3 separate regions of the Homo sapiens genome follow, and regions 1 and 3 are each linked to region 2. Evidence: fine-mapped expression QTL. A gene starts in region 2. Each other region holds a variant in brackets. All regions are shown on one strand. Distances are from middle to middle. Region 1 overlaps B3GLCT (beta 3-glucosyltransferase). Region 2 holds the start of B3GLCT (beta 3-glucosyltransferase). Region 3 overlaps B3GLCT (beta 3-glucosyltransferase).

Region 1 (10,794 bases), 130 kb after region 2:
TAATAAAATGATAAGGAGAAAAGAAGGAAAATCATCTATAGGCAAAAGTCCTTTGAAGATAATTTTTTTAAAAATAAGGTTGTTGTTTCCCCCACTTTAGAACCCTTGATTTCTCTAATTCACATACATTTTAAACTTTTCCAAAATCATAAAATATGTTTAAAACCTATCCTCCCCAACAGATAATGCTGTATCTTCCAATTCTTAAGCCTCTTTTAGAGAGTTTGGTAACGATTTGGATAGTGCTTTCCATTTATAGTGTTTAAACACTGATCCAAACTGTGTTTGTTCATCTTCACAAAGAAATATGAGGCAAAGAGATAAAATTTAAGAATCCTGATGAGCTAGAGACAGAGTGGGCATTTGGAAGCAGTCTCATATGCAAAATTGCCTGGGCCGTCACATTTCTTCTGTTTTTAGAGAAAGTTATTGTGAATTCGCAGATTTAGAAGGGGACTCCAGGGAAAATCTAGTATTTCCCTTTGTTGAAAGCACAGCACCTAGAGCATATGGTTTTCTGTTCTTCCAAAATTATGTGCCACTAATGGACATGGCAGTGTGCAATGATTGGTGGTTGCTCAACTCTGGAAATTTCCCGAAAAGTTTTAGACCACCGTTATGGTGGGTAAACTGTATGGGATGGAAATCATTTTTCAATACAGTTATAGAAAGGCACTTGTCTAAGGAAATGTGATTTTAATCTCCATTTGCTGCCCTGTTTAGTGTGCTCCAGTATTTACAGATGAAAGGTTCTAATTTTGCCCAATGTAGGAGGTCTTTCCCTTTTTTTTTTTTTTTTTTTTTTTTTTGAGATGAAGTCTTGCTCTGTCACCCAGGCTGGAATGCAGTGGCATGATCTCGGCTCACTGCAACCTCTGCTTCCTGGGTTCAAGCGATTCTCCTGCCTCAGCCTCCCAAGTAGCTGGGACTATAGGTGTGTGCCACCCGCCTGGCTAATTTTTTGTATTTTTAGTAGAGACGGGATTTCATGTGTTAGCCAGGGTGGTCTCGATCTCCTGACCTTGTGATCCACCTGCCTCGGCCTCCCAAAGTGCTGGGATTACAGGCCTGAGCCACCACACCTGGCTGTAGGTCTTTCTTAGGCAGTTTCAGCCCCTCTCTCTTCCTGTATGCAGATGCCTACCACACTCTGTGTCTGTTCCTCAAGTTCTTCACCACCCCTCATCCTGCCTGTTTGGGATTTCCTCTTGACATTTTGGGCACAGAGATATGATTATTAGAGGCTGCATAGAGTTCTTGGTATTAAAGATACCATTTTGGATGTATTTCACTTTTCTGGTTTTGTCTAATGCTTTTCCATTACCTCATTTGTCAAAAATGACCAGTAAATTGTAATGTTTAATAAGCCAGCTCTTTTAATGCATGTATAGCCTCCCTGAGATGCAGCAAATCACTTCTAGAATCTGCATTAATAGAGTGGAAAATGTTATGGTTTATTTTTTTTCCTGTTAGATGCATTTCTATCTTCAACAGTTCATTTTTAAAGGTGAAAAACCAGCAAGGATTTGTTTCCATTGCTTTTACAGTAGTCCTTCCTTAACCACAGGGGATACATTCCACAATCCCCCCAGTGGATGTTTGAAACCTTGGCTATACTGAACCCTACGTATACTATGTTTTTTCTTATATTTTACATACCTATGATCAAGTTTACTTTAGAAAGTAGGCAGAGTAAGAGATTAACAACAATAACTAATAATAAAATAGAGCAATTATAACCATATGCCAGCATCACTACTCTTGCTTCAGGCTATTCTTAAGTAAAATAAGGGTTCCTTGAACACAAGCACTGTGATACTGCTGCAGTTGACTGGATAATGAGGCGGCTTCTAGCGACTCAGGGGCAGGGAGTGTAGACAGCATGAAGATGCTGAACAAAGGGAGGATTCATGCCCAGTGCGGGATGGAGTGGGACACCCCAGATTTCATCCTGATACTCAGCAGGGCCCGCAACTTAAAACTTAGGAATTGTGTATTTCTGGAATTTTCCATTTAATATTTTCAGACTAAAATTGACTGTGGGACACTGACACTTCAGAAAGTGAAACCATGGATAAGGGGGAACTACTGTATTTCTTTCTTCTGGGATCATTGTGGAATTATCTTCTAACGGAATTGAGAGGATGTTTCTCCTTGGTTTTCTTCCTTGCCAGTAAACTCTCAGAGGGCCTTGCAAAGAAACGTCGTATAATAAATGAATTCCTTCAACTAATATTCAAAACTTTCCCAACTCTGTTAGACTGTATTCCAGTGTGTATTTTTTGTCTGTCTCACTGTTTTTTCCTTTTAAAATTCCTTTTAGATTTTTAACTCCCTGAGCAGTTATAATTTCTTAAAAATAGCAATTGTGAAAGTTCTCCCCTTAGATTATTTTGAACTTTTCTTCGCAGATATTATTGTTGGAACACTCATCTGAGCAGTATATTTGTACTGGTGAAGCTAGGTTAGGCCAGGTGCTGCTGAGTGTGCCCAACCGGCGGTAAGATGGCTTGAGCAGAGGCAGCCGGTGTCCTGGCAGAGCACTGGCCCTGGGCTGAGCACCTCTCTCTGGTCTCTATTCCAGTGTTTGCTAGTCATGTTACTTCTGGGAGCTCTGGTTTTCTCAGCGGTAAATTGGAAGTGAACCATAATATTCTGTCCATTTTATAAGGCTGTTTCTAGGATTCAATAAGGCAAAATTTAACAAAGGTATTCTGTAAACCATTTAAGTGAGTTTAAGTATTCATATCAAAGATTTAGGCAGACTGTAATAAAAAAAGTAGCCTACAAAAGACTTGTTTTTAAAATGCATCACATCTAGTTTTAGTAGTCAAGACAATTTTAGTATTGATGACCTAATGAGTTACTTTATAAAACAGTGGCCCATATAAATTAATAAACAAATTTAAGATGATTACTGGCTGGGCAAAGTGGCTCACGCCTGCAACCTCAGCACTTTGGGAGGCCAAGGTAGGTGGATCACCTGAGGTCAGGGGTTCGAGACCAGGCTGGCTAACATGGTGAAACCCCCGTCTCCACTAAATACAAAAATTAGCCAGGCATGGTAGTGCATGCCTGTAATCCCAGCTACTTGGGAGGCTGAGGCCGGAGAATCGCTTGAACCCGGGAGGCAGAGGTTGCAGTAAGCTGAGATTGCCCCACTGCACTCCAGCCTGGGCAGCAGAGTGAAACTCCATCTCAAAAAAAAAAAAAAAAAAAAAAAAAGGTTTACCGAGAGAAACTGGATACTTTGCTTAGAGAAAACAAAATAGTATCTGATTTCAGTTTCCTTCTAACCCTATATGCTACTTCTTCAATCTTATTCTAACCTGTATCTAGTTCTGCTTAAGTTTTATTTTCTAACTTCTAAAAAATTTTGCAATGTAGATAATATAAAAACTTTTTAGGTCCTTTCACAAACTATTTCGGGTTACTTGCAATTCTCATTTACACCTCTGGAACTAGACTAGATATTTGGTCAGGAAGAGAGCATGAGTTACATTATCCTCCTCCCGAGTGAGCTCCTTGTTTTCTTTCTTCGAATGACATCACCTAATTACACATTAGAGCAGTAGAGAGGCCAAGGGAAATCTGAGAAATCCTTGTCCCAGCCCCCCACAACAAACTTACGGCCAGTTTCCTTAGAAGTACCTGGAACATAACAGTTTTTCTGTCTTTGTGCAGAAGTGATAATAGTAACTTAAATGGCTTATCAAAGAAAGCTTTTTGTATTTATTACTATTGTTTAGGAATCTCCCAGAGGCAAGACTATGGAACATAGAAGCAAAAAGCAGTGCATTTGGGGTATTAAGGTAATTGGAGACACAAAAGCAAAGCACCTGGAGTTAGAAGAAAGATATCAGAAAATAGTTTCCTTTTTGCTTTTAGATTCCTATAGCCAATGTTAGGTAGTGAAGTAAAGCAGTCCACTTTATAAATTCAAATGCTCTTCTGCAGCAAAATTATATTCAATCAACAAGGAAGCCTAACTCTCTATTTTTCCTGCAGGCTCGGCCGGTGGATTACCCTAAGGACTACCTTTCTCATCAAGTTCCCATATCGTTCCACAAACACTGGAACATCGATCCAGTGAAGGTGTATTTCACATGGTTGGCACCCAGTGACGAAGACAAAGCCAGGCAGGAGACACAGAAAGGTTTTCGAGAGGAGTTATAAATCAGGGTGACCTGTGCGCCTAGCCTGCGCAGGGA[A/G]TGAACTGGAGACTGTGGCCTCATCCCACTGTGCTGTGCTCACAACACTTGTGTCTGCCACATGGCATTGGGTGCTTCCTGACTTTAGGGGGAGATTTTATGTATGGTATTTTTTGACAGAGGAAGAAAAGGGGTCACAGGAGAAACATTTTTTTTTCTGGGAAAAATCACTTGCTTTTGACTTATGCAGTTGTTTTAACACTTAGTGATGACTGTGTATTCTCCAAGCTGTGATACAGCAGTTTTTTTTTATTGTCACAGGGAAATAAATGGTACCAGAAGTCCCTTTCCTGTTCTGTCTCTTCATTGTAATGGAAGTTTCAGTTGGGCATGAGCCTGGAGAGATGTGACTGTCTACAGTTCTATTTGTATATATAAAAAGAAGACTGAAAGTCTTTTGACATGGATATTGTGAATGGTATGAACTTTTAAACCATATTATTGATGATGAAAATTATTTCCTGGGAACTCAGTAGGAATAATACCGTATTAAGGAATAATACTGTACATAAAACATCATGAAACCCTAGATATGAAATCCCCTGAAGTCTGTAATCATGGTGGTTATGTTTTGTCTATTCTTTTGCTGTTTGTGCCTCATAAAAAGAGAATGAGGTCTTCTGCTAGAGCTTCGTATTGCTTTGGAAGTTCATCTGTGTTTTATTTCTCCCTGAAGCCCTATCTTTATGGCTTACTTGTAACATGAAAGTAGTAGATGCTGCCAGAAAATAGTGTCCTCAATATTTTAAAACAATGTTGACATGTTTTGTTCAAGTCAGCAAGCTCTATGTGAGTCTCAGGAAGTGAATTAAATTTGGACCTTATGTTTTACTCTTGTTTTTTTTTTTTTTTTAAATGTTACTTAATGACTCTCTCCTGACTCAGGAGAGAAACCCCTTGTGGAAGGACAGCATGGTGATCAGGCAATTTCTCTGGGTTCCCAAAGAATGACATTTGAACACAGTATTTTGAAACAGCTCTAGTTTTCAAATTATATCTTTAATATATAGTAATGTAACATATTCAGTATTAATGTATAAAAAGCACTCTAATTATATAATTCAGTTTTTGTAAAGGTATTTGCATAAAATTTAATATGTCTTAAACTAATTTTGGTAAATTACTTCTTTTTTTTCTTTTTAATAAAAACTGTTACTCATTAACTTTGCTTATAATGCTTTTTATAGCCCAGCACAGAATTTAAAGCCATACCACCAAAAGTACCTGTGTGTGTTAATATGTTTTTCTTGTAGCATAGATTGACTATTTGCAATAGTATTAGTATTTACCATTTTTCCAAATTAGCAACTACCAGACCTCACGTGTTGCAGTGATAACACAATGCATTGGATTCAGTTTTGTGAAAATGGATTCTGTGGCCATCCAAGGGATGTATCAGGGATGATCAGCTGATGAGAGGCTCCAGAAGGATTTCTAGATCGCTTCAAGCCTATACTGATGGCCTTAGCTTTGTTCAGTCATTGTAACTGGGATTGTTGTCATTGCTACCGTGGTAGTCACCTTCATGTCATCTATAATAGTACTCCTGGAGAGCCCTGGCTGCCTACACCAGTGGAAAAGAGTCTCCAGTTCTGCTCTGGCCTACTAACTGTTACCACTGAGAGAACAACATGTTCATTTGACATGATTGAAGCTGGCATCCGTATATGAAGATCCTTGTCAAGCTTTCTTCTGTGGTCTGATTAGTGCCTTCTACTGATACCGGGGCACCTCCTCTGGTACTTTTAAGTGTTTTGTTAATTATATTTACTTTTTGGAATGGTGTAAGCCTAACCACAAGTAAAAGATCTTTGCCTAAGTTTTTGATTTCTCAAATATTGTGTTCATTAGTCTAGACTGGGAATGGGGAGGGGAAATGGGGAAAATGAATGAATGAAATCAGAAAAAAGTCAGCGGCTCAGTAAATACAGTTTAAAGAGAGAATAATTACTTCAGAGCTACCCTTTTAAGAGAAAACCATCAGAAATTGATAATGTTTATATAAAGTTTATAAAGCCATTGTGTTTTGTTATATAACAAATCAGAGATGTTATTTTAGAATCGATTCCCATCTAAAGAACTCAATTTTGAGTCTGACATTTCCAGGACCAGATATTGTCTTACTCACATTTCCTTTGCTTTGAAATAGGGCTTTCCTTCCAAATGGCTATTTTTAGGCTAGGGATGTTAACATCAGGGATTTGTGTGTGGAATAACTGGAATGTCATTTTTGCTTTTAAGCCATTTCTGATGATATAGCCAAAGCAGGTTGTCTGACTATGTAGGATTTTTACATCTTGAAACTAAATCAGAAATCCAGACATGAAAATAACCTTTCTAGAATGCCTAGGAGCAGAAAACAATAATAGCATGCTAAATCACAAATGATGCTATGTATGGGTATGTAAATATCAGTGCTGTCTGCATTTCTGGGTTTATTGAAGACCTCTTGTTGTATATATCCTCAAAAATTAATGTAATTGACATCTTCAAGAATGTTTCTATTGTCTTCCATTCATAATCAGAGATGTAATTTGTATGGACTAAATAAAAACTTTATTATGTAATGAAAAGTTGAACACTTTCTTACAAAGAAAACTCTAGGCCCAGATGGTTTCATCGGTGATATTCTCCAGGCATCCAAAGATGAAATACTATGTTTATGGGACATAAACTCTTTCAGAGCATAATGAAAAAGGAAACATTTCCCAGCTGAATTTATGAGACCCAAGTTTCTCTGACACCAAAACTTGACAAAAGAAAATCACAGACTAACAACTTTCATGAGCATAAAAGACAGTGATCCTAAACAAAATGATCAGCAATATGTAAAAAGAGGATACATAAAAAGGATAGTAACTCATGACCAAATGGGTTTATTCCAGGGATGCAAGGCTACTGTAACATTCAAAAATCAAGTAATTCACCACATTAATAGAATAAAGGAGAAAAATTGTATAACCATTTTAATAGCTGCGCAAAAAAGGAGGAAAAAAAGCATTTGACAGAATTCAGCAGCCAACCTTGTAATTCTCAAACTAGGTAAATTCGTCAATATAATAAAGAGTATCTACAGAAAAAAGTATCATAAATACCTAATGCTTTCATATTGAATTATTTCTCCCCCTAAATTTGGAGGAAAGACTAGAATGTTTACCATCACTACTTCTATTCAACATCGTTTAGGAGATCCCAGTCAGGGGAAAGAAAAGAAAATTATATAAAGAGTAAATAGAAGTAAAAAGATATTTACAGATGACTTGATTGCATACAAACAGAATCCAAAGTATTTTATAATGAATTTAGTAAGATCACTAGATACAGGACTGATATAAAAAATAATTGTATTTCTACATACTGGCAACAAACAATTTGAAAATAAAATTAGGGAAACAATGTTATTTACAATGGTTTACAAATATTAAATACTAAGGAAATCGATCTTAAATGTTACCACCACTGCCAAAAAAAAAAAAAAAAAAAAAAAAAAAGCAGGAATGGATGGATATGCTAATTGGCTTGATTGTGGCAATCATTTTACAATGTATACATATATACAATCATGTACACTAAGTATATACACTTTTTATGTGTCAAGTATACCTCAGTAAAGCCGGAAAGCATTAGCAAGCATCTAGAAATATCTAGAAATAAATAGTTGCAAGATCTCTGCACTGAAAACCAGAAAATCTTGAGAGATATTAAAAAGGAACTAAGGTTTATCATTTTATGTACTGAAATGTTCAATATTGTTATGACTACAATTATCTCAAATTGATCTACAGATTTATTTCCAGTAAAAATCTGAGACTTTGTGTGTAAAAATTGACAAATTGGTTCAAAATATAGAAGGAAATGCAAAGGACCGAGAATAGCCAAGCCAATTATGATGACAAAATTCGAAGATTTACAAGAACAGATTTCAAGACCTACCAAAAAACTACTCAAGTGTTTTACTGGCATGACGATTGAAGTTAGGTAAATTGAGCAGAATCCATATATAATATGATTACTTAATGTAAGACAAAGGTGATACATGCAGTTCATGAGGGAAATGATCTTTTCAATAAATGTAGAGAAATTAGATATATGGAACAATATGAAGCAACTACTAACTCGGATTACAGACATTATATTCAAAGATTAAGCTATAAAGCATCTAAGAACAGTACTTTTCAACTGGGGGCCTTTTAGCCCTGGGAGACATTTGGCAAGATTTTTGAATGTCACAACTGGAAGGGGGTGCTACTGGCATCTCATGGGTAGGCCAGAGATGCTGTTAAACACCCTACAATGCACAGGAGAAGAATTAACAAGGAATTATCTAGCCTCAAATTTTAGTATTGTCAAGGTTGAGAAACACTAGTCTAGAGGAAAACCAGACTAAAATATCTTCATGATCTTAGGTAAGCAATGAATTATTAAACAGGTAATAAAAAGCCACTATCTAGGGCTAGTGTGGTGGCTCACGTCTGCAGTCTCAACATTTTGGAAGGCTGAGGCAGGAGAATTTCTTGAGGCTAGGAGTTCGAGACCAGCTTAGGCAATGTAATGAGACCCTGACTCTACAAAACAACAACAACAAAACGCTATCTACAAAATTAAAAAGTGGATACATTTGATTTTATTTTAAATAAAACATTTTTTTTCTATCAAAGGAAAAGGCAAGTTACAGACTGGAGAAGATATGTATGATATATCTGACAAAGACTCTGTGGCAGACAACTCTAAAATAGTCCCCATGACCCCTGACTCCTGGTATTCATACCCTTGTGTAATCCTCTCCCCTTGAGTTTTCATGGGACCTATGTGACTTGATTTTAACTAATTGGATATGGGATGTATGTGATTATGTGTATGTGAATCTGTTCCATAAGCCTGTAATATTCATCTCATGAGGAGATACTCTTCCTTGTTGGCTTTGAGGAAACAAGCAGTCATGTTGGGAAAGCCTACATGGTGAGAAACTAAGGGTAACCTGTAGGCAACAGGCAGCAAGAAGCAGACTGGAAAGCGGTATACCACAAGGGACTGAACACTGCCACCACATGAGTTTGGAAGAAGATCCTTCCTCATTTAAGCAAAAGATGAGACCACAGCCCTGGCCAACATATCTATTGCAGCTGTGTGAGAGATCCTAAAGCAGAGGACCAAGCTAAGCCATGCTGAGACTCTTGACCCACAGAAACTGTCAAATAACAAATGTATGTTTGTTTATACCCCTAAGTTTGCAGTAATATTGCTATGCAGCAGTAGATAATACAGGTTCATAGCCAATACAACTCCTACAAATCCGAGGACACAACGCAGTCAAAAATGTCCAAAACACTTGAACAGGCACCTCACAAGAGAGGAAATACAAATGGCCAATACATGTATTTTGAGTGTTCAACATCATTAATGAGATCACAAACCCACTGTGAGACATGCTATGCGGTTACAACAATGGCAAAACTAAAGAGACTTGATACTTTTGAGTGTTGACAAAAATGTGAAGCATGTATTGAATTCTTATAAAGTATTGCTTAAGAGTACTAAATAGCCACACTGCAAAATTATTCTCAGCATTTTCTACTAAAGCAAACCAAACATCTATGCCAGGGTTCAGCCAACTGCTGCCCATGGGCTAAATCCAGGCCACCACCTGCTTTGGTCAACAAAATTGTATTACACAGGCACGCCCATTTGTTTGCATATTGTCTATGGCAGAGTTGACTCATTACAATGGAGAACGTATGGCTTGCACAGTCTACATATTTCCTATCTGCCTTTTACAGAAAAAGTTTGCTGACCTCGGGTCTACACTATGTCTCAGTAATTCCTCTCCTGAGTGCACAGTTCCACAAAATGAAATGTTCAAAAGAGTTCATATTTGCTTTATTATAACAGCCCCAAATTGAAAAAAAATTTCTACCAAGAAGAGATGGATAAATTATTATATATCCGTACAGTGATGGATAATTACTTCACAGCAATTAAAAGGAGAAAACTATTGGTAGACATTACAATGTTAATGATTCTCACAGGTATATTGAACAAAAGGAGGCAGACACGAAAGAAAGCATAGATTCTTTTTATAGGAAATTCAAGAATAGGTAGAAATAGTTGATAGAAGTTGAAAAAATAGGAATTCCTGGTGGTGGGGTAAAGAAAAAAAGCTGCCTAAGGGGCGTTCACTGTCAACTCTTAGTGGAGCCTTTGCTGGCAGTGGATAGCAAAAAACTACAATTCTCCAAAAGGATTTGGTGTGTTGGCTACTTCATATGGCTAAATATACATTTATGTGTTCTGGATGCTAGAAGAGGCAGGGATAGGATTGCCATTCTATTGTGAAAGTTCAGAAATCTTATTCAGTATTCTTATGTAATTGGGAGACAACACCACCTGTGGAAGAACATGAGGGGTGGCAATTAGAATCAAATAACAGTAGGTGTTTTGGGGTCAGACTGAGCAGTTGCTGTGGCAGCACCTCACAGACTAGGGGATGTGAGGGCCAGAGCTGAGTGTCGACTTGGGCCCCCACATTTGCCCGAGTGCCCTCCAAGTCAGATGGGGTGAGGTGCCCTTGTGGCTGTGGGCAAGG
Region 2 (10,794 bases):
TTAATTGCCTCATTTGTCTCCTCTGTGGCCTCTCTCTTTGCTCCAGCATCGACTCACTCGCAAGTATAATTGATCTGACCCTCTGTTGTGCCCTCACAGCAATCCTTTCCCTTCTATTCCTGTTGCTACTACCTCCGTTAAATAACAGGGTTTCCATTAAAGGCAGTTCTGGCTGTTGGTATTTGACCTGCCTGAGACTCAGTTTACTAATCTTGTAAAGTGGGAACAGTAGTCCTGTCATAGGTTTTTCTTTTTTTGGTGTGGGGTTAACTGAAATAATATATTTGAAAGTAACTTGGGAGGCCGAGGCGGGCGGATCACGAGGTCAGGAGATCGAGACCATCCCGGCTAAAACGGTGAAACCCCGTCTCTACTAAAAATACAAAAAATTAGCCGGGCGTAGTGGCGGGCGCCTGTAGTCCCAGCTACTTGGGAGGCTGAGGCAGGAGAATGGCGTGAACCCGGGAGGCGGAGCTTGCAGTGAGCCGAGATCCCGCCACTGCACTCCAGCCTGGGCGACAGAGCGAGACTCCGTCTCAAAAAAAAAAAAAAAAAAAAGAAAGTAACTGGCAGAGTGCCTAGCTACTGCATGTGTTCAGTACATACATGTTAGTTTTCCTTCATTTCCCCTTTCCTCATAATTTTTTCTAGCCAGTCTTTTTTCTTTCTTTCCCCTCTCTAATCCATCCACAACATTAACACTGAATTAAACTTCTCACAGCACTGATCAATCATTAAATCAGTACCCAACTCACGTGAACTGAGTGTTCATCATGTGAATTCATCACAATTGAAATATTCATTATTTTTCTGATAGGGGTTGCCGAGTTAGGACACCAGGTAGGCCTTACGAGCTACAGTCTTGTAGTGGAGGTTTTGGTCATCACCTGCTGAAACATCCTTCCATCTATCCACTGCTCATTGCCCCACTCAAGGGAAGGCCATTCTCCTAGCACGGTGCCCAAGCCCCTGCTCGGTACGGTCCTAACCAGCCTCCCCTCCATGTTCCCTCGTGCTGGCCAAACTAAACAGCTCCTCAGTCTCTGAACTCTCGGTCTTCCATGGCATTTCTTGCTTGTCTCCTCTGCTTGGAATGCCTTCTCCCCTTCTCTCTTGGCAACCGCGCCATCTCGGTGAGGCCCCATGCAGCCCCACTGATGAATGTGCTTTCCTTCTCCTTGCCCTTGTTCGTACGCTTCTTAGGGGATTTCCATGTTCCAGGAGGGTTTATGGCTATTTCTGTATGTCCTGGTCCTCCTAACTAGACTGTGATCTCCCCCAGGAAAATGCATTTTCCTCCAAACTCAGCATGCCATATGAGGGCCTCATACATGCAGTTAGTCCGTGATACATTCGTCACAAACACATAAAATTTTTGTTGAGCTTATTAAGCAAGATCCTACATCTGAAAGCAGCTGTTGTAAAATGAACAACTACTTATTAGCAACAGCACCAAAAACACCAACACATTTTGTGTGGGCTGCTGAACAGTCATGCCCCACGCCTTCTGTTCTTAGTGAAAGTCAAATGCAGACACTTCCTGTCATGCCTGCTATGAGTGATTCCTGATCTTTACTGGGAACAGAAGGATATGTGATTCTACAAAGGAGAGCGAAACAGCCAAGTAGATCATCTATTTCTGATTAGAAGTTTCTAGGATAGCTTTCTTGTAGACAGGCTTTATATCACTCTGTGTCTTCAAATGTCAATGGCTTCAGATTTCTGGGCTTTCCTGGGGGGTCTGCTGAGATGGTAACCTGTTATATTTCCTGGATTTTGGTTCAGGGTTGTTAGGCTGTGAGAATCCCTTTGTTAAGCTTCTTTGAATAAAAATCTTGGTTGAAAGTTTGGTTTGACAGAATGGGTTTTGCCTAAATATATATATATATATATATATTTTTTTTTTTCCAGACAGAATCTCACTCTGTCGCCCAGGCTGGAGTGCAGTGGCGTGATCTCGGCTCACTGAAACCTCTACCTCCCCAGTTCAAACGATTCTCCTGCCTCCCCCTCCTGATTAGCTGGGATTACAGGCGTGCGCCACCATGCCCAGCTAATTTTTATATTTTTAGTACAGATGGGCTTTCACTACATTGGCCAGGCTGATCTTGAATGCCTGACCTCAAATGATCCACCCGCCTCAGCCTCCCAAAATGCTGGGATTACAGGTGTGAGCCACTGCACCTGGCCTTGCCTATAATTTTTGAATAGCTTTGGAAGCAATGTGAGACAAGCTCCCTGAGGGCATTAAAGAAACCACCGTATGTCATCAAAGGATTCTTCCTGAGTACATGCAGTGGGGCTGTGGCTCTGGGTCCTCTCTGAGTGATGAAAGTTTTGCTCCCTCTCTTCTCTTCCTGTCTCCCTCTTCTCCACGGGGATCATAGATTATCTTCCTTCCCAAAACGCTAAAGCGTAAGGTACAAGTGATGAGTCTTTCTCCTGTAACCCCCTAGTGTGCACTGATTGTGGGGTGTGAGGATGGTGAGCAGATGATTAAAGTACTGTAGCATAGGTCTGATATTATAATGACCTTAAGTCCCGGAGACCCTGTTTTAGACATTCTATTTTACTATTAAACCTTAAGACCTGATTTTAGGTTTGGAAAATAATCCTCAAGACCACTCATAATTCATAAACCTGCTGTTTTATGCAGGAAGAGAATAGTCCTCCTGAATTGTGTTGACTGCTAATCCACTTTAGGCCTGACACTGAGTGAAAGGGCACCGAGAGTGGGAAGAGTTGGAATATGCCCTTTGGGCTTTGCTAGTATAGAAACAGGGTGCCTGGGAGGCCCCTTCCAAGTCACAGGAGAGAGGCAGCAGGCTGGAGGGGGCACAGTGAGAAGCTGTTCCTCCTTGCAGCCCCTCTCCCCACCCGCCACACTACTGTTGATTTGCACATTCGTGCTGTGCCTCAGCCTGGGGCGCCTGTCCTCCTTTCTCAGCTCAGGAACCTGCTATTTCTCCTTTAAGATCCTGTGCAACAGTCGCTTCTTTTCTTACAGATTCCAAAGGCCCTGAGAGATTTTTTTTTCCCTGTGTGTTCCAAAGTGTGCTGATCTACGCATGCCATAGCATTTATAAGAAGGTAGCAAAGTTAGTTATGAACATTTTTGTCTCCCAAACTGGACCGTGAGTTCTTGGGCCCAGGACCATGTTTTATGCTCTTTAATATCTGCCCCAGAGCTTAGCAAAGGGCACATCAGCTAGAGGTGCTCCCTATCATTTGAATGAATGGAGTTCAGCCTTTTGGGCCTCAAGGATAACTGTTGTAAGATCAGAAACCATCTGTTTGGAACTTGTTCATTAGATTATTTGGCTCTCAGTGGTTTTAGTATGTCTTTATGTTCTCCTTTAGTATTTAGAAAATTATCTGTAAAATTACCAGTCTGTTTTAACCAGGTTGCGACAGTGCCTTCCCCAACAAAAGATGGCTCCTTGCTTCTTCCCCTGTCCCTCAACAAAGAAAGTTTCAGGGGCCAGCATGGAGGTGACAGCTGGGATTGAGTAAATCCCAAGAAGATGGCTTGCTTGTTTTCATATCACAATCTTAAAGTTTATAGGATTTATTTTTTTTCTACTTAGAGTTGTTCCTTTACAGTCAATGTTATAGGCAAGCAGTGCCTATCATGTATCTGTTAGTATCCTCATCAGTACGTTGCTCTAGGAAACTCTCCTGACATGTGATTGGGAGAGAGAACTCCCAGCAAGTCCATTTATCATATGACTAGAGTAAGTGAAAGGCAATTCTTTTTAAAATGTGAGTTATGGAGCTTTGTAATGTGCCATTTATCTATGTCTACTGTGGAAAGGAAGGACACCAGGGCAAGTTTATTACTTAAACGGTGTGTTCTCTGTTGTCCTTAGGGCTTAATTTTCCACACCTTGTTCTGGAACATAGTAATACTCTAACATGATGAATTTCCATGAAAACATTGATTAAGCACCAGGAGTTGCTTACCCACGTGGAGTAGGCATTTGACCCTGCTTATTAGTCTTCTGTGTCTAATTAAACAGTTTGGTTAAATGTTTACTACCCCACATATGCAAGGAATATTTTCTTGGAAAAAAGCGAAAACAGCTTTGGAAATTGGAAACAATCTAGAACTACTAGGCAGGTAAGCTTGAGAATTTCCCAAGGATAAAAGCAATGAATTCAGTCAACCATAGATTTGAAATGCTTCACTAAGAAATGAAATGGAAGGATCCCTACATTTCTTTTTCCTCCCATCAAAATGGTATTGACAAGAGACCATAAACCTTGGGCGAATGGAACAAAAGGGAACTATTTGCACTCACACTAAATGGATCACACGTGAAATATTTAGTTCCCAGTTTTAAGAAGTCAATATAAACCACACAGAGAGAAAATTCTTTGTCTCCAGGCCTCCTTTTCAAAACAATCCCAGCAGGTATTGCACAATTGCAGACAATACTGTCCTAATGCATTAGAGCCTAAGTCCCCTAAACGCATTCAAGTTAAGAGGGCTCAAGCCTACAAATGTTTATTCAGCACCTGCTTCTCTGTCTCCAGGACATCCTACTTGTATTCCCAGGGCCATCCTACTTGTACTCCCAGGGCCTCCTCCTCCTTAAATGTTTAGCAAGTAGGTGAATGTTGTATGTCCATGTGAAAGATACTGGCATTCCTAGGGTGCTTAGCAGAGTTGCAGTCACATAGTAGGTATCCAACAAATGAGTAAATATGAAGGAAAACATAGAAACTGCCTTCAAGAGGTCATGGGCTAAACTAGGGCTGGGAAAAGCACTTGGTCCTGTGCACTTCCTTGGAAACAGAAGTGAGCCAAGGCTTGAGGGAGGCACGAAGGAGTTCAGAACCACTGAAGGGAGCCTCTAGTTCTTACTTGTAATGCTTTCCCCTTCAGTGCACCACACAACACAACAGGACCAGTCCCCTATCAGGGCCACCACTCTACCGGGCTGGGGAGGAAAGCCCTTCGCAGTCCTGCGGGAACAGGAGGCACTCCCACATTGCTCCACTTCTCTGTATTCCAGTTTAATTAATTTTTATATTTTGAATAAAATTACACCCACTCTCTTCCATTATGGTGAACACTTAAAATTACATTTATAGAAAATTACATTTACACAAACTTGTTTAAAAGCCAAATCCCAGACCTAGGCTATTGGCCAAATTCCATTTAAAGGGGATATTAAGTAAATTAGTTGAGCTGATTAAAAACACCTTCATCAAAGTAGAGCATTGGTGCCAACAATATTAAGAGTTGAACTATTGATTACATTTTTTTTTCCACAGCAGATAATACATTAGCAGGGAGGAAAAGTGATTACTGCTCGCTTCCACTTCACAGGTAGAACTACTGATGGGGGTGACGCGGTAAGGTGGGAGGGCATGAAGGCAGGGGACGCGGCCTAGGTCAGGAGGGACGCAGAGGAGAAAGGAAGAGGAGGGGTGGAGGCTGGTGGCTGGAGGGGGCAGAGGTCAGACGCCTCGAAGGAGGGCGCCGTGAGGGCAGAGCCGCGGCCACCTCTACCGCAGCAGCCCGTCGGGCCGGACACCAGCCGCAGCCGCCAGCCCGGCAGACGCTGGAAGCGCGCACAGGGGTGCTCCCGCTCCCGGCCGCCAGAGGGCGCGGCCGGCGATGGCGCGGCGGAGACGGAGGGAGGAGGGGAGCCGGCAGAGAAGGGTCAGCCGCGGCGGCAGGGCGGCGGCGGCAGCGGCGCAGCTCCGCTCCCCGCGCGTCTCCCTTCCCCGCGCCCAGGTAGGGCGCTCAGCCTCCGCCGCCAGGATGCGGCCGCCCGCCTGCTGGTGGCTGCTCGCGCCGCCGGCGCTGCTCGCGCTCCTCACCTGCTCCCTGGGTAAGTAGCGGGCGGCCAGGCGCGCAAGGGCGAGGCGTGGGGTTCGCGGGCACAGTCGCCCGTGCCCCGGTCGGCGCGGGGAGGGAGGCGCAGGGCGGCCCAGCCCTGCCCCGCCGGCGCGCGCGTCCCGCCGTCCGGTCCCCGCCGCGCCGCGCCGTCAGCAGCGCCCTCTCGCGGCGCCCAGGTGGGACCCGGGCCCGGGACCCGAGGCGTGCCCGCTCGGCCCCTTTCGGTCTTGGGTCCCCGCTGCCGCCCCGGCCCCAGACTCGCGTCTCCCAGCCTCTGCCGCCCCGAACCGGCGGGCGACGGGGCGGCGAGGGCGCAGCAGCCGCCCCCACAGGAAGCGCGCAGGAACTGTGCCACCGAAGAAACTTTGCAACAGCGCGAGTGGCGGCGGCGGCGGTCCCGCCCCCCTGCCTTCCGCCCGCGCTCCGCCGTCCTGCGCGCCCCGCGCCGGGCGGGAGGCTGGACGGGAGCCGGCGAGGCGGCCCTCGAGGCCCCGCGGCTCCTGTTCGACCCCCGGGGGCGAGGACTGCGGTCCCGGTGTCCGCGCGCCCCTCCGCAGGGCCTTCGGGACGTGCCCTGGCCCCTGAGGATAAGCGGCCAGCTCGGCGCCAGCCCTTCCCGGATTCCGACCCGGAGGAGGACAGGGGCGCCCGCTGGGCCTCCGCGGGAGCTGGCGCGGCGGGGAGGCTTGCTCCTGTCTCGGGTCTCCGCTGGGGACATCAGGGGACACGTCTGCGAGCAGAGCAGTGCTTGCCCGGTCTCCTGCTGCTGTAATGCCCATTCTTTTTTATTTCTTTTCTCCTCGCAAGGGCATTTCCCCCCTTTATCTTAAAACGATGTGATAAAAGTTAAAAAAAAAAAAAAAGCAGCCTTGTAATTGACTTTCATGATCAGATTTGTTCAACTTTGAAAGCTTGAGCGAAAAATTATTTTTTTTTCAGACTGCTACAGAGTTTTTGTCCTCTAACCCAGACTTGCTGGTGTGAAAAGGCAATGATTTCAGATTTTTTAGTAATGGCAGAATGGTGCAGTTTAGGAAAAGACGTAGCGTTATTGCGCACTGCTCTTGTTAGCCCACCGGAACCTTGACAGCCTGTTTTTATTTGTATTTAAGCTCTCTGAATAAGGATTAATTTGCTGCATTTGTGTACTTCTGGCATTTCTATAGGCGCTCAGTAAGTGTGGGAAAAGAGCAAGATTAGTTGGTAATTGTTTACATGCATGATTAATTAGGCAGCAGTGTAATTAAAAATATTAGGGCACCTCCGGCAGAGAAGGCTGTAGTTGGTCTTGGGGAGCGACTGAATTTGGCTGGAATCGGCTTCAGTGGAAGAAGGGCATTGCTGGGTGGCAGCCCTGGGAGAAAGGGAGGTTGGAGGTTTGGGAAAGCGACTGGGTGACTCCTGGCTGCATCAGTTGGCTTGTTGCCTGGATGTTTTGCAACTAACCAAATGGGTGGGTGGTAGCTGAAATTGGTATTCTATTTATAGCACTGCACTTTATAATGCTGTACTGGGGGTATAATATTTGTATATAATATATACAACATATGGGCTGAAATGCACATTTGTATTGCTGTGTCTATTTTTTATTACCCCCAGGGGAATATTTGCACTGTCCAAATTTGATAATACACTGAAGGACATTCAGAATGCACTAAGATGTCAACACATTTTTAGAGATGTCTATTAGCCTTGTGAAGTTGTCAGATAAGCACAATAAATAAGACATAAAATGCATTAAAAGGTCCCTGTGAGACATTTGGCCTTTGGGAACTGGCTTTCATGGGTTGGCACAGACGGGAGGCTGTATTCTTCGAGGTCTGAAGTGAATCATGAATACCTTTTATGGAGCTCTGCTTCGATTTAGGGGAAGGGCACCGACACGTATAAAGATGTCCCCACTTACGATGTTCTTGGAATCTTGCTGAAACAGAATGTGACAGGCGTTCTGTCACATGTGAACAATCTTGATAGTTTATAAATACCTTAAATATTCCCATATAAGATTGGCCTGACTATATAGTTTAGTTTCCCCACAAACTAGAGCATATTTGTTTATATTTTTAGAGAAAAGTCAATATAGAAAATTTCTTTTAAACCCACATGCATATACAGACACGGTTCACTGCAACTTTGGTTCTAAAGTCTGGCACCAGTTTCAGAATGAGAAGATTGAGTCAGGCCTCCAGGTTACCATTTGTTAGCTGTGTGGCTTTTAGTGGCTTTGAGCTTCAGTTTTCTCATATGAACAGGGCGAATGGACTGGATAGAATACTAGCACTTTGCCACCTCTTACAGTTTTAACATACTGATCCCGTTGTAGCAGAGATTGACAGCCACCTGCGAAGTAACCCTTTAGCCCTTGTTTTCCTAACAAAACTAATATAATCTGGGTTGGGGGGAAGGATGGTGGGGTGGTGGTGGCAGCGGTGGCAGCAGCACTGTGAGACATTTCTCAGTGGCCTTTGCATATAGGGGCAGCTAGTGCTCTACAGAGATATCTTTAGAGATTGTTTGGTGGGGCTCCTGGTAAAGCTCATTCAAGGTGGCTGACTCAGCTGGGATGCAGGCCTTTTTGCTCTGTGTTATCCTCCTTCCCATTGCCTATTAAGTGGATCTGAGGGATGGAGCCATGGTGGCCATCTTGTGACCATGAGGTGACCTTGAAGATGGAAGCCAGTAGTAAGGATGGTAGAAGAGAAAGATAGAAGAAGCCTGGATGCCAGATGGATGTGGAGCATCATGTCAGCTCTGCATTTCCTGTTTGCAGACTTGTATTGCATGAGATTATATGCAGCCAAACCTAATCCTATTGCCAAACCTAATCCTAATTGATAGAAGAAGCTTATTCGAACCAATGATATTGATAAAATAATAGGTATTAGCTTTTATTTTTCACATGCCTGTCTGTCACTTCCCTGTGTGAGCCAACTTTGTATTTCTTAGCACCTGCCAAAATTGGGGATGGTTTTTCATTCTGAGCCAGGTCTTGCCCAGATTCCTTTCATTGCAATGAGTCAGAAATTTTAGGACACCAAGAGTCAGACCTAATTCCAGGTTGTTTTGTGTTTTTTGATTCTTAAAACCTTCTCTTTATTTCTTAAGCAGTATGCAGATATTACTGGCACAGATTTTAATCTTCTGGATGGATTCTTTGTCATCCAGGTAGTCCAGGACCTCCGAGTTGGCATGGCTCCCCAGGTCATGGACTTGACCCAGGGGAGTTTGCCAGTAGCCAACAGCTAAGCCAGTGGGAGGGAGGGAGAGCATCTGTTTCAAATAGCAGTGTGAATTCGAAGGAGGTGCTTTGACCCCTTTGGTAACTTCCTGCGGGACAAACATTGTGGGCTCGGTATTTGAGCACTTCCTTATAATTGGCTCTTTTGGAGCCAGGTTTTTTTGGTGTGTTTTACTAGACTCATTATGAAGCAAGCAAGCAAGCATAATTTTTAGGCATAAAGGTACTACTTAGAGAAAATTTGCAAATGTTCTGTTTTTCCTCTTGTAGCATTATGTGTGATCCATCTTTGGCTTTGCACAGATTACTTCTTAAGAACAATATATGGGAGTCCCCATAGGTTAATCTCATCTTTTCCATGATAAAGGAAAAGTTGTGAGTTTCAAGGGTTCATCAGACCTATTGAGGAAGTTCTTCCTTACTACCATGATTTCAAAGTTCTAGTCACTAAGCAACTCCCAAAGAAACCTGATTTAACGTAGGCGTTGACTTGAACTACTAGAAGAATGTCAATTTAAAAATAGTGTTAAAAAGAAAAACTGCCCAAAGCCTCTCATTTATTCAGAGTAATGTGGGTACCTACTGTGTGTCAGGCATCGTGATATTGCAGGAACAAGACAGATCTAGTCTGTCTCTACCCTTGGGGAGCTTGCAGCCCGAAAGGCAAGGTGATGTTAAGCAGTAATGACTACAGAATGAATCGTGTCTGTGCCAAATGCTGTGGAAGAGATGTTCAGGATGCTGTGAGAACATGCTGCAGGGAGATAGATGGCTTTTGCCTAGACTGGGGAGATGGATCTCAACAGGGAGCCATCTTGCACCCCAGGGAACGTTTGTTGCTGTCTGGATACTTTTTGGTTATCCCAGGGGCTGGTTTGGCAGAGGGTGCTACTGACATCTAGAGTCAGGGGTGCTGCTGAACATCCTACAAAGGCACAGGACAGTTCCACCCCACCATCGAACAATTAATTATCGGATCCAAAATGCCAACAGTGGCAAGCTTGAGAAACTGTGGGGTAAGGGTCAAGGAAGGCTTCCTAGAGGATGTGACGTTAGAGCTCAGACCCGAAAGGGAAGCAGAAATCAGGTAAGTGGGTGGCAGAGCTTGGTGGTGAAGGAGCCAAGTGGAGAAAGGACGGAGGACTGAAGGGCTGGCAAGATCATTAGGGGCCAGGTTGGGTAGGGCCTTGCAGATCAGGGGACATATTTTGGGGTCATCCTTAGAGCAGAGGGAAGTGTTTGAAGGGCTGTAGTGGGGCAGTATGTGATATGGCTGCCGTTTCCTGAAACTCACTCTGGCTGTCTGATGGAGCAGGAGTTGGAGGGGGCCATTGTGGATATAGGGAACTGTGAGGAGGCTGCTGGACACAGGTTGTGAGAGATGATTAATAATCTCTCAGACTCTGGGACTGATTAGGTTCAGTGTGCTGGGAGAAAGGGTGGGGGAAAGGATGAGTCATACATTTCTGTCACATCCACCATGGGTAGTAGTGCTGTTTACTAACTTGGGCACTGAAGGAGGAGGACCAGGTTTTTAAAAACAGTTTTATGTGGTTCAATGTACATAACATACAGTTTATTAAGTATAATGAATTTTAAGTGTATAGTTCTATGGCATTAAGTACTTACACAATTTTTTGAAATGTACTTTGACTTTTAATTTTAGGGGGAGGTGAAGCTGAGTAAGTTCAGTTTTGGACAAGTT
Region 3 (10,794 bases), 48 kb after region 2:
TCTATGAATTAGTTGCTGTTATTCTTGCCGTTTTGCAGAGAGGAAACTGAGGCTTAGAGAGATTAATAAAATAGTGGAGTCAGTCCTATACCTCAGTTCTGAGGGGATCCAAAGCCTATTCTCTCTGCCTTGCTGCCTCCTGACTTGCAGGTGGGGCCATGATCCCTCGTGCAGCAGAGCCATGTTGATAGGTAAACAGTGTGCTATTCAGTCTGTCTCTTCATATAGCTCTGTTCTTATGGCTTCTATCCCTGACACATTATATTGTAGATTTATTTGCTTGTTGCCTGTCTCCCTCATGAGAACATGAGATCCAATAGGGCAGGGACTCTGCCTGTCTTATCACAGCTGTTTACTGTATTCCTAGAACAGTACCTGGTACATAGTAGTTGCTAAAAATTATTGCAAAATTGATATTGTTAATAGTCATCACATGCTTACCACATGCCAAGTGCCTGGCATGTATTAACTCACTTGCTCCCCTTTGCTGTTGTCATCTCACATGAGAGAATGAGGTGGCAGAGCCACAACTAGGATAAGAAACTCACTCGAGTTGCATGGCTCAGAAGAAATAGAGCCAGGATTCAAAGGAATTTGGCTCCAAAAATCAGATCCTTAAATACTGAGCTTTACAGCCTTTTGTGAGTGAATGAATTATTAGTTAAAATAGATTTATATGAGCTATAAAATGGACGGAGTAATGCTTTTCAAAGTAAATTGTTCATAAAAATAAAAATTTCTAAATAATGAGGTAATATTTTATCTTGTTAGGAAAGGACATTTAATGATTAAGACAGGTATCTAGAAAAATCTTTTCTTTTTTTTGTAATATAGACTCAGATTCCTAGAAGGTATGTTATTATAACATCACATATAATCTGCTGGGGGCCATAAATGAATACTGGATTTCTAAAGGCTAGTAAATCTGTCTGATACATGTTGCAAATAGCATATTACAGATCTCTGTTATCCTCATAAGACATACGTACCTCTTACAGAAGAAATTGTAACAATAAACAGATGTTAATTTTCACCATAATTTATTTGTTGTTCTAAAAGCTCAGTTCAGTGCCTCAGAATGATGTAATAGTTGGAATTTAGACAAACAGTTGAAATGGAATCAGTCTTAAAAGTTCAGTTTTTTAGAACCTTTGCCTAATGCTGATCTTACTTTCTAGTTTAGCATGTAGTCTGAATAATAAAACTGAATGAGACCATAAACCCATGTACTTCTAGGTTTAGAGGTTAAATTAAGGACAAATGACAAATACTGGCAAATAGTCTGTTGACAAGGGAAAGACCAGCACCATGTAGTTTAATTGTTGAATTATTTCCAGACATGCAGAAAAACTAAAATGGTTCAAAACCAAATCTGCTGAATAATTAAGGTTATTTATGATATTTTATATATTCATCTATTTTAATCCATGTTCAAATGTTAGCTTTTTCATTCATACTATTAATATTTCTACATATAAATTTTTAATGATTTCCCCTCCATGTCAAGAATAATGACCCTTCTCCATTCTAAAAATATTGTGAGAATACTCAGCTGTGATATTGGAATCAAACCCCTTTCCCAAATGAGGATGATGAATATGTATAAGAACCAACTAATGAATTAGAATGTTGGTTTTAAATTTGTTTGCTCTCAATAATTATTAGCTGCTTTAAATATGAATTCATGCCTTGATAACAAATATGTTCCAAGGAAGTACCGACTGAAAGTTCAGTAGGCTTCCTGTCTTCAAAGTGATTATGATACCAGTGGATGCTGATAAAGGCAGACTTTAATTCAAAGAGATAAATAGAGTTGACATGAAAGTTTAAATTACTGCAAGCGACCTTTTCATTTTCTTTCCCTTTTCTGTCATTTATCCATATTTGATCATTTGTATTTTTAGCTCCTTTATGCCTGCCTGTTACGGCATTATCTCATTATCGAGAGAATTTTGAATTACCTTTTAGGTTTGAAATAGTAGCATGATTAGGCATCATTTAGATTGACGACAGTTGTTGCATGCATGAATGCCTTTACTATGTCTTTATTCCAGACAGCTCTTGGTAATGTTGATATAACATTTTCTTATTTTCCCCTTGAATTTTAATTTGAAAACTATTTCTTAGTTATTCAGCCAGTTACTTATTTAAAAACTTGCTTTGAGACTGGGCACGGTGGCTCATGCCTGTAATCCCAGCACTTTGGGAGGCCGAGGCGGGTGGATCACCTGAAATCAGGAGTTCGAGACCAGCCTGGCCAACATGGTGAAACCCTGTCTCTATTAATAACACAAAAATTAGCCAGGCGTGGTGGTGCACCCCTGTAATCCCAGCTACTCGGGAGGCTGAGGCAAGAGAATCACTTGAACCTGGGAGGCAGAGGTTGCAGTGAGCCGAGATTGCGCCATTGCACTACAGCCTGGGTGACAAGAGCGAAACTCTGTCTCCAAAAATAAAAATAAAAACTTGCTTTGAATCTAAAAATGGTATCATTTAGTGACACTACCTTTAAGGAGATCTAAATCTTATGATGGCGATAGATGGAACATAAATTATTATAATCCTAAGTGGTAGGAACTGAGATAAGATCATTTGATAGAAAATTTTATTGCACCCTTTTTGATAATTACCTTTAAGGTGCTACTACATCTAAGTGTAATATTACATCTGTTTGGGTCTCTGTGTGCATTCATATATATATATGTGTATATATGTGTGTATATGTATATGACAAGAATAAAAGCTCTTGGGCATTTTTGGGGATTAGTAGATTAAAATTTATTTACAATTAAGATGACTTTGGCTTAATCAAGAGTTAATCAAGAGCAGGTTTCTGAGTGCCAAAGTAGCACCTACTTTGTATTTTTGAGTACTCACCTTTGGAGAGTGTTATTAACAAGGCATGCTAGCTTTTGAAATGTTGTTATATGGAGATACAGAGAGACAGAAAATTTGACTGATCTTGTGTTCACAAACTGAAGCAAATATGAAATCTAGTATATGATTTACTAAACAAATATAATGGAGCTATGAATGACTTTAATCTACTGATAATCCATAGAGTTTATTTCAATCTAGGATGTGATTCCTTGTTTGCACTACCTAAACCTTTGCCTCCCACATTTTATGTTGTGGCAGAAATTATTAATAAGCTTGTCTTCTAATCTCTCCCAGGAAAGTGCTTTTGTAGCCTTTCTGCTGAGGTTACCGTCAAGGTATCAAAGGAAGCCTTTTCTCAGTTAATAGCTGTTGATATTACATTATATATATATCCTATAACTAGGAAGTATAATACTTGTTTGGAAGTAAATTTTTGAGGTGCATTCATTTTCCTTCAATGTTTAAAAAACTTAGCTATGTTTTAATTGAAGGATTTTTAAAGCATATATCTCATTGTTCTATCATCTTGACACAAATATTTTCACTTCCTGGTTCTTCTAGTCTCTGTTCATCTAGGATTTTGTTTTATTCTTGGAATCATGTCTGGTTTTTTTCTATTAAACATAAAGACATTTCCGTTGTTATAAAGTTTTCATCATAATTTTAATTGATACATAATAACTCATTAGCTACTTTTATGTAAAACTTTAAAAAGTATTTGCTATATTTCTTTTCTTGTCTAGCTCACATTTGCATTTACCCATAATTATTCCAAAGTTTTATGCAAATAGTAACATCATTAGTTTCTTTACACATGATTTTCTGCTCTTATGTAATCCTTCATGAATATATATATTTGCTGGAATTTTAAAAAGACAATGAAAATTACTGCATAATTCAGAAGTAACAGTAGGAAGGCCCTGAATTATTTATATTGGGTAACTGCTAATTCAGCCTTAAGGTTTGCTCTTTCTAACATACCACATTGTTTGTCTGATTTAACCTGTGATTACTGTTTTTTGCATTTCATATTTCTACATGGAAGTTGAAATGAATATTATATAAAATAAATGAGATTTACTTGAAATTTAATTCCAAAGATTTACATTAAAGACTATTCTCTTCTTAAATAATAAATATCTATGAACTTTAAGACAGCTGTGAAATCCACATCAGTGCAGTAATGTTTCAGATACTTAGGTACTTGTTCTTGAATTCTTTTGTCTGTAATGGTTACTAGGAATATAGTTTTATGGCTAGTATAAAACACAGGATATAATAAAGTTTGTTGGGGGAGGAGGTTTAAGCATATGAGATATGAAATTTTTGACTTTTGGCTTTTGTAACAACTTGAAATATAGGGAATAGTGTTTTGCTTCAAAGCTAACACTCGTAGCCTTAAAAATATTAATCTCTCTTTATATATGTATACATAATTTATGTAAGCACAGTTGTGCCTTATTTCTGAATTTTAGTTCCTCCTATGCTTATAAATTTGTCAATTCCATTATTATGCTATTCCTGTTATTGCCTGAGTAATTAAGGATTACATTTCTCGACCAAAACTTTTTGTTATCAGGGTATTTTAATGTGTTTAGAGAACTTTAAAAAGTAAAGTAATTTTTGCACATGAGGTAGATCAAATATTGTATCCTCTAGTTTAGCCAAAGGGTTTTCATTTTCACATGTTCCATATGTTGTATATAAAATAAAAAACTGCTTCTGTGCCTCTGAGTTATCCCTGACTACTTCCCCCAGGCTCTTCCCTTCAAGTCACCTTCACAGATTTCAGGTTGGCTCGGAGTCACGGAAGACCCTCCTTGTAGGTCTTGAGCTCTATTTGGGTGTGTGGGTGGTGCAGAGTGTAGAGGTTGCATGGATTCAGCCAAAATACTTCATTTCCAGTAGCTCCTGGAGAAAATGAGGAAAAAGAAGTGGTTTGAAGAGTACCATGTCAGGTCTCTAGAAACAGCTGCATTTTAAGCCAAGCCTTTTCTTTTTTTCTTTTTTCTTTTCTTTTCTTTTCTTTTTTTTTTTTTTTACTTTTTTTCGGAGTAGTCAATTCATACTTATCTTCTTTGATCATTGTTTTCTCAGGAGCTCCCCAGTGTCCTCCTCCTTCATCAGCTGGCTAAACAAGAAGGTGCATGGACCATACTTCCGTTGTTACCGCAGTACGTTTGTTTAACTCACCTGTGAATTACTGACATTCCTACCTGAACACTTTTACGCCCTTAGTCTTTTTATTAAGAGGGTGTGGTTTTCCTCAGTCAGTAAGTGAAGTAAATTTGAGTTTTACTTTTTATGATTACTACCTTAACCAAATTTCTTGATGATTGGTTCTTAATCATGAATAGCTTTTTCTTTTTTTTTGGAGACAGAGTCTCGCTCTGTCGCCAGGCTGGAATGCAGTGGTGACTTGGCTCCTGCAAGCTCTGCCTCATGGGTTCAAGCAATTCCCTGCCTCAGCCTCCCGAGTAGCTGTGACTACAGGCGTGCACCACCACTCCCAGTTATTTTTTTATTTTTAGTATAGATGAGATTTTACCATGTTGGCCAGGATGGCCTTGATCTGTTGACCTTGTGATCCGTCTGCCTTGGCCTCCCAAAGTGCTGGGATAACAGGCGTGAGCCACCACACCCTGCCCTATATATGCTTTTTCTTAAAGAATAAAATGCTTCAAGTTGATATTTGAAAATTATTTATCCCCTGAACTAGTGTTGTTATGGAGAGAATTAACTTTACGAACTCCAGCTGTTTTTTAAACCATTAGCATCTGGCTTTTCTATAAGCTGAAGAAAAATATAGAGAAAAAAATTAGATATGCCATTCTGTGTACCCTTCATTCACTTCCTACTGATCAGTTTTAAACCTTATTATTAACTTATTTTACAGAAGTGATTACTGAAACTTGTTTCTTTTGGTCAGTTTTTCTGTAACATATAGCAGAAATTCATCTTGGATTTTCTTCTGTGAAGAAGAGACAAGAATACAGATTCCAAAACTCTTGGAAACCCTCAGAAGATATGACCCCTCTAAGGTGAATATAACTTCAATACCAGTTCTTATTTTGGGGGACAGTGTTTCAAAGGAGATTTAATTTTGATTAAGAAGCTTTTGAATCTAATAAAAAACCACTTAGTTTAAAATTAAAAAGAATGAAACATTGTTGAATATCTGAGATATGTTAAGTAATGCTCTTTGAAGTTTGTAGCTTATAGAGGGACAGAGCTTATAATGAGCCATTTTAAATGAAAAAAATCTGTTAATATATGTGTTAGCAATTTCAGAGAGTTGGAAACTATAACTTGAAGTTCATAAACTGCTTTTCTTAGCAATAAACTTAAGTTGGCTATTTCTGCTTATTAGACAGTGACCATATATTATTTTAGATAGAAAATTTTTTTTGAGTGCCAGCTGTATACTGAGCACTGTGGATGGCGGAGGCTAGAACAAAACAGACAGCGATTCTGAACATGTGGGTGGCACAGAATAGCAGGGAGAACAGACCATTAGAGAAGCAGTTATGGTTAGAAGGAAAACATCTCTAATAAGGAAGACTAGGGTGCTGTTAGAAGCATATAACAGGGGCATGGAATCTAA[C/G]CTGGGAGGGTCAGGACAGGAAGTGACATTTAATCTGAGTTCTGTAGGATGAGTAGGAGTTAGCAAGAGAGAAAGAGGGTCTACCAGGCAGAGGGAACACGATTTGAGAAAGAATGGGGGTGGGAAGGGATGTATCTTGAACTAGAGGAACTCAGTGAAGTCCACTACTGCTTTTACATTTTCAGATCTTGTTTTTATTTCATGCAGATTTGATAGAGCAACTGGATTTTGTTTGCCTTGAAATCCCTAGCCCTTAGCAGAGTGTTTAACACTTAGTAGGTGGTCAGTGAATATTTGCGAATGACTTTATAACCCTGTAATAATCAGTTTTGCTGCTGGGCTATGTTCAAAGGCTCGTTAGGTTTAGAGAGCTGCCTTGGAAATGTGTCAAGAGTAAATCGAGCTCATTCAGTTCTCTTTCAGAGGAAAGAAGCCCAGGTTACAACCTGATCACTTTTTGGAATTCTTTAAACTTGAGATAAGCAGAGATGGGCCCTTTCTGGTCCCAGTGGAAACCTGTCCCACCCACCTTCGAATGCTCGCTCCTGAGATGAATCAGATGTAATGAGCTCATGGGGAATAAAAGGCAAGCTTCTGGGTTCTGCTCGGTTTGTTGATGTAGATGTCAAACACTGGGCAACAGTGATCGTTAGATTAATTTCTCCAACCCTGGAAAGCCTGTTACTATAATAGAAACCACTGCTTTTGATGATCTTTAAATGCTGGAAAGATCCACTATGATTTTTCTTCATGCTTTTAATTTCTGGGAAGCTTTAGATATAATTGGATGAGAAGGTCATTGGGTTAAAAAAATAATTCTTTCAAAGAGAAGAATTATGAACCTGTCTCATCCAGTCTTTTCAGATGACACTAACCAGCATCTGTGCACTTTCTGCCATGTTTTATGCAAACCATTTGTTAGGCTTTTATGTTTCCTTTTGGCTTGGGAAAAACTCCCAAATCTTTTTTAGGATGTAGGAGTTTTCACCTCCTCCTAGTGTTCATTTCACCTGGAGGTTATTTTTCCATTATCCATAGCTCTAATTCTGTACAGGAGATGGTGACTCACTTTGCTTTTTAATGAAAATTGGGATGATAAATTTAAAAGTTCAAAGCAAGTTCATGAAAAGCAAGTACAGAACAGAGGTAAAAGGAGATGTTTTCTCCCTCTTTTCAGAACTCTGCCATGTGTAAAAAAAAACCATCCAGGATGCTTTATTTCTTTTGAGACTAACAGTAAGAAATGATAAAGATTATATGATGTTGAAGTTAGCTCAAACCAGTGTGATTTTTTTGTCCTCTACCATTTGAAGGGAAAAAAGTATAAAGCAAACCTGGCTTTGATATTTACACAAATAAACTTTGAGTACATTAAAATAATTATGTAATGTGTGAGGGTATAAGGTATTTTGTTTGATTCTGATTTATTTCCATCATCATCTTTCAGTCATTCTTACTAATGCAAATGTATACTGTCAAAATATTTTAAATGTAAAACTTTTAACTTTTATTAATCTTTATTAAATTGCCTTCCTCGGTGATTTCTATAAATTTTTGTATGTTGTTTGAAGTCTTTCCTTTGTAACCACAGTATGCTTTTAATATATGTGTATTTTATGAGGTGTGTTGACTTTAAATTTATTTTGTTTTATTTTATTTTTTGAGACAGAGTCTCGTTCTGTCACCCAGGCCGGAGTGCAGTGGTGCAGTCTTGGCTCACTGCAACCTCCACCTCCCAGGTTCAATCAATTCTTGTGCCTCAGCCTCCCAAGTAGCTGGGATTACAGTCTTGCACCAGCAAACCTGAGTAATTTTTGAATTTTTAGTAAAGATGGGATTTTGCCCTGTTGGCCAGTCTGGTCTTCAACTCCTGGTCTCAAGTGATCTGCCTGCCTCGGCCTCCCAAAGTGCTGGGATTACAGGCATGGAGCCACCACACCTGGCCTAAATTTATTTTTAATAGAGATAAAACACAGGTGCTTGCAAAAAGTAATTCTGAGGGGCGTCCGCCATTGCTGAGGCTTGAGTAGGCAATTTTACCCTCACAGTGTAAACAAAGCCACCAGGAAGTTCAAACTGGGTGGAGCCCACCACAGCGAGGCAAGGCCTCTGCCGCCAGACTGCCTGTTTAGATTCCCTCCTCTCTGGGCAGGGCGTCTCTGAAAAAAGGCAGCAGCCCCAGTCAGAGACTTATAGATAAAACCTCCACCTCCCTGGGACAGAGAACCTGGGGGAAGGGGCAGTTGTGGGCGCCACTTCAGCAGACTTAAATGTCCCTACCTGGCAGCTCTGAAGAGAGCAGCGGATCTCTCAGCACAGTGTTTGAGCTCTGATAAGGGACAGCCTCCCTCCTGAAGTGGGTCCCTGAACCCCCGTGTAGCCTGACTGGGAGACACCTCCCAGTAGGGGCCGACAGACACCTCATACAGGAGAGCTCTGACTGGCATCTGGCAGGTGCTCCTCTGGGATGAAGCTTCCAGAGGAAGGAACAGGCAGCAATCTTTGTGGTTCTGCACCCTCCACCGGGGATACCCAGGCAAACAGGATCTGGAACGGATCTCCAGCAAACTCCAGCAGACCTGTAGCAGGGGACCAGACTGTTAGAAGGAAAACTAATAAACAGAAAGGAATAGTATCAACATCAACAAAAAGGACGTCCACTCAGAGACCCCCTCCGAAGGTCACCGACTTCAAAGACCAAACGTAGATAAATCCATGAAGATTGGGGAGAAACTAGCACAAAACGGCTGAAAATCCCAAAAACCAGAACACCTCTTCTCCTTCAAAGGATCACAACTCCTCACCAGCAAGGGAACAAAACTGGATGGAGAATGAGTTTGACGAATTGACAGAAGTAGGCTTCCGAAGGTGGGTAATAACAAACTCCTTCAAGCTAAAGGAGCATGTTCTAACCCAGTGCAAGGAAGCTAAGAACCTTGAAAAAAGGTTATAGGAATTGCTAACTAGAATAACCAGTTTAGAGAAGAACGTAAATGACCTGATGGAGCTGAAAAACACAGCACAAGCACTTTGTGAAGCATACCCAAGTACCAATAGCCGAATCGATCAAGTGGAAGAAAGGATATCAGAGATTGAAGATCAACTCAATGAAATAAAGCAAGAAGACAAGATTAGAGAAAGAAGAGTGAAAAGAAATGAACAAAGCCTCCAAGAAATATGGGACTGTGTGAAAAGACCAAATCTACATTTGATTGCTGTACCTGAAAGTGATGGCGAGAATGGAACCAAGTTGGAAAACACTCTTCAGGATATTATCCGGGAGAACTTCCCCAACGTAGCAAAGCAGGTCAACATTCAAACTCAGAAATATGGAGAACACTACAAAGATACTCCTCGAGAAGAGCAACCCCAAGACACATAGTCGTCAGATTCACCAAGGTTGAAATGAAGGAAAAAAATGTTAAGGGCAGCCAGAGGGAAAGTCCGGTTACCCACAAAAGGAAGCCCATCAGACTAACAGCGGATCTCTCAGCAGAAACCCTACAAGCCAGAAGAGAGTGTGTGCCAATATGCAGCATTCTTAAAGAAAGGAATTTTCAACCCAGAATTTTCATATCCAGCCAAACTAAGCTTCATAAGGGAAGGAGAAATAAAATCCTTTACAGACAAAGAAATGCTGAGAGATTTTGTCACCACCAGGCCTGCCCTGCAAGAGCTCCTGAAGGAAGCAGTAAGCATGGAAAGGAACAACCAGTACCAGCCACTGCCAAAACATACCAAATTGTAAAGACCATTGATGCTATGAAGAAACTGCATCAACTAAGGGGCAAAATAACCAGCTAGCATCAAAATGGCAGGATCAGATTTACACATAACAATATTAACCTTAAATGTAAATGGGCTAAATGCTCCAGTTAAAAGACACAGACTGGCAAATTGGATAAAGAGTTAAGACCCATCAGTGTGCTGTGTTTGGGAGACCCATCTCATGTGCAAAGACACACATAGGCTCAAAAAGGGATGGAGGAAGATTTACCAAGCAAATGGAAGGCCAAAAAAAAAGCGGGGGTTGCAATCCTAGTCTCTGATAAAACAGACTTTAAACCAAGAAAGATCAAAAGAGACAAAGAAGGGCATTGCATAATGGTAAAGGGATCAACACAACAAGAAGAGCTAACTGTCCTAAATATATGCACTCAATACAGGAGCACCCAGATTCATAAAGCAAGCTCTTAGAGACCTACACAGAGACTTAGACTCCCACACAATAATGGAGACTTTAACACCCCACTGTCAGTATTAGACAGATCAACAAGACAGAAAATTAACAAGGATATCCAGGACCTGAA

What was found. PIP is the estimated chance that this variant, and not a neighbour inherited with it, causes the effect.
Region 1: its variant is fine-mapped to the expression of B3GLCT in lung (TOPMed, PIP above 0.99).
Region 3: its variant is fine-mapped to the expression of B3GLCT in unexposed skin (GTEx, PIP above 0.99).

What each region holds. Positions count from the first base shown.
Region 1 is chr13:31,325,493-31,336,286 of GRCh38, forward strand. B3GLCT (beta 3-glucosyltransferase) reads left to right here. Exons shown (of 15, transcript NM_194318.4): 15 at 4,009-6,784. The coding sequence ends at 4,176. Among named protein-coding and RNA genes, the nearest start is that of B3GLCT, 130 kb to the left of the region's middle. The variant A/G (reference allele first, on the strand shown) is at 4,212.
Region 2 is chr13:31,194,312-31,205,105 of GRCh38, forward strand. It overlaps B3GLCT (beta 3-glucosyltransferase), which reads left to right and starts at 5,664. Exons shown (of 15, transcript NM_194318.4): 1 at 5,664-5,843. The coding sequence starts at 5,774. RefSeq lists silencers at 5,305-5,364, 5,415-6,314, 6,375-6,624.
Region 3 is chr13:31,242,046-31,252,839 of GRCh38, forward strand. B3GLCT (beta 3-glucosyltransferase) reads left to right here. Exons shown (of 15, transcript NM_194318.4): 5 at 4,978-5,054; 6 at 5,810-5,921. Among named protein-coding and RNA genes, the nearest start is that of B3GLCT, 47 kb to the left of the region's middle. The variant C/G (reference allele first, on the strand shown) is at 6,485.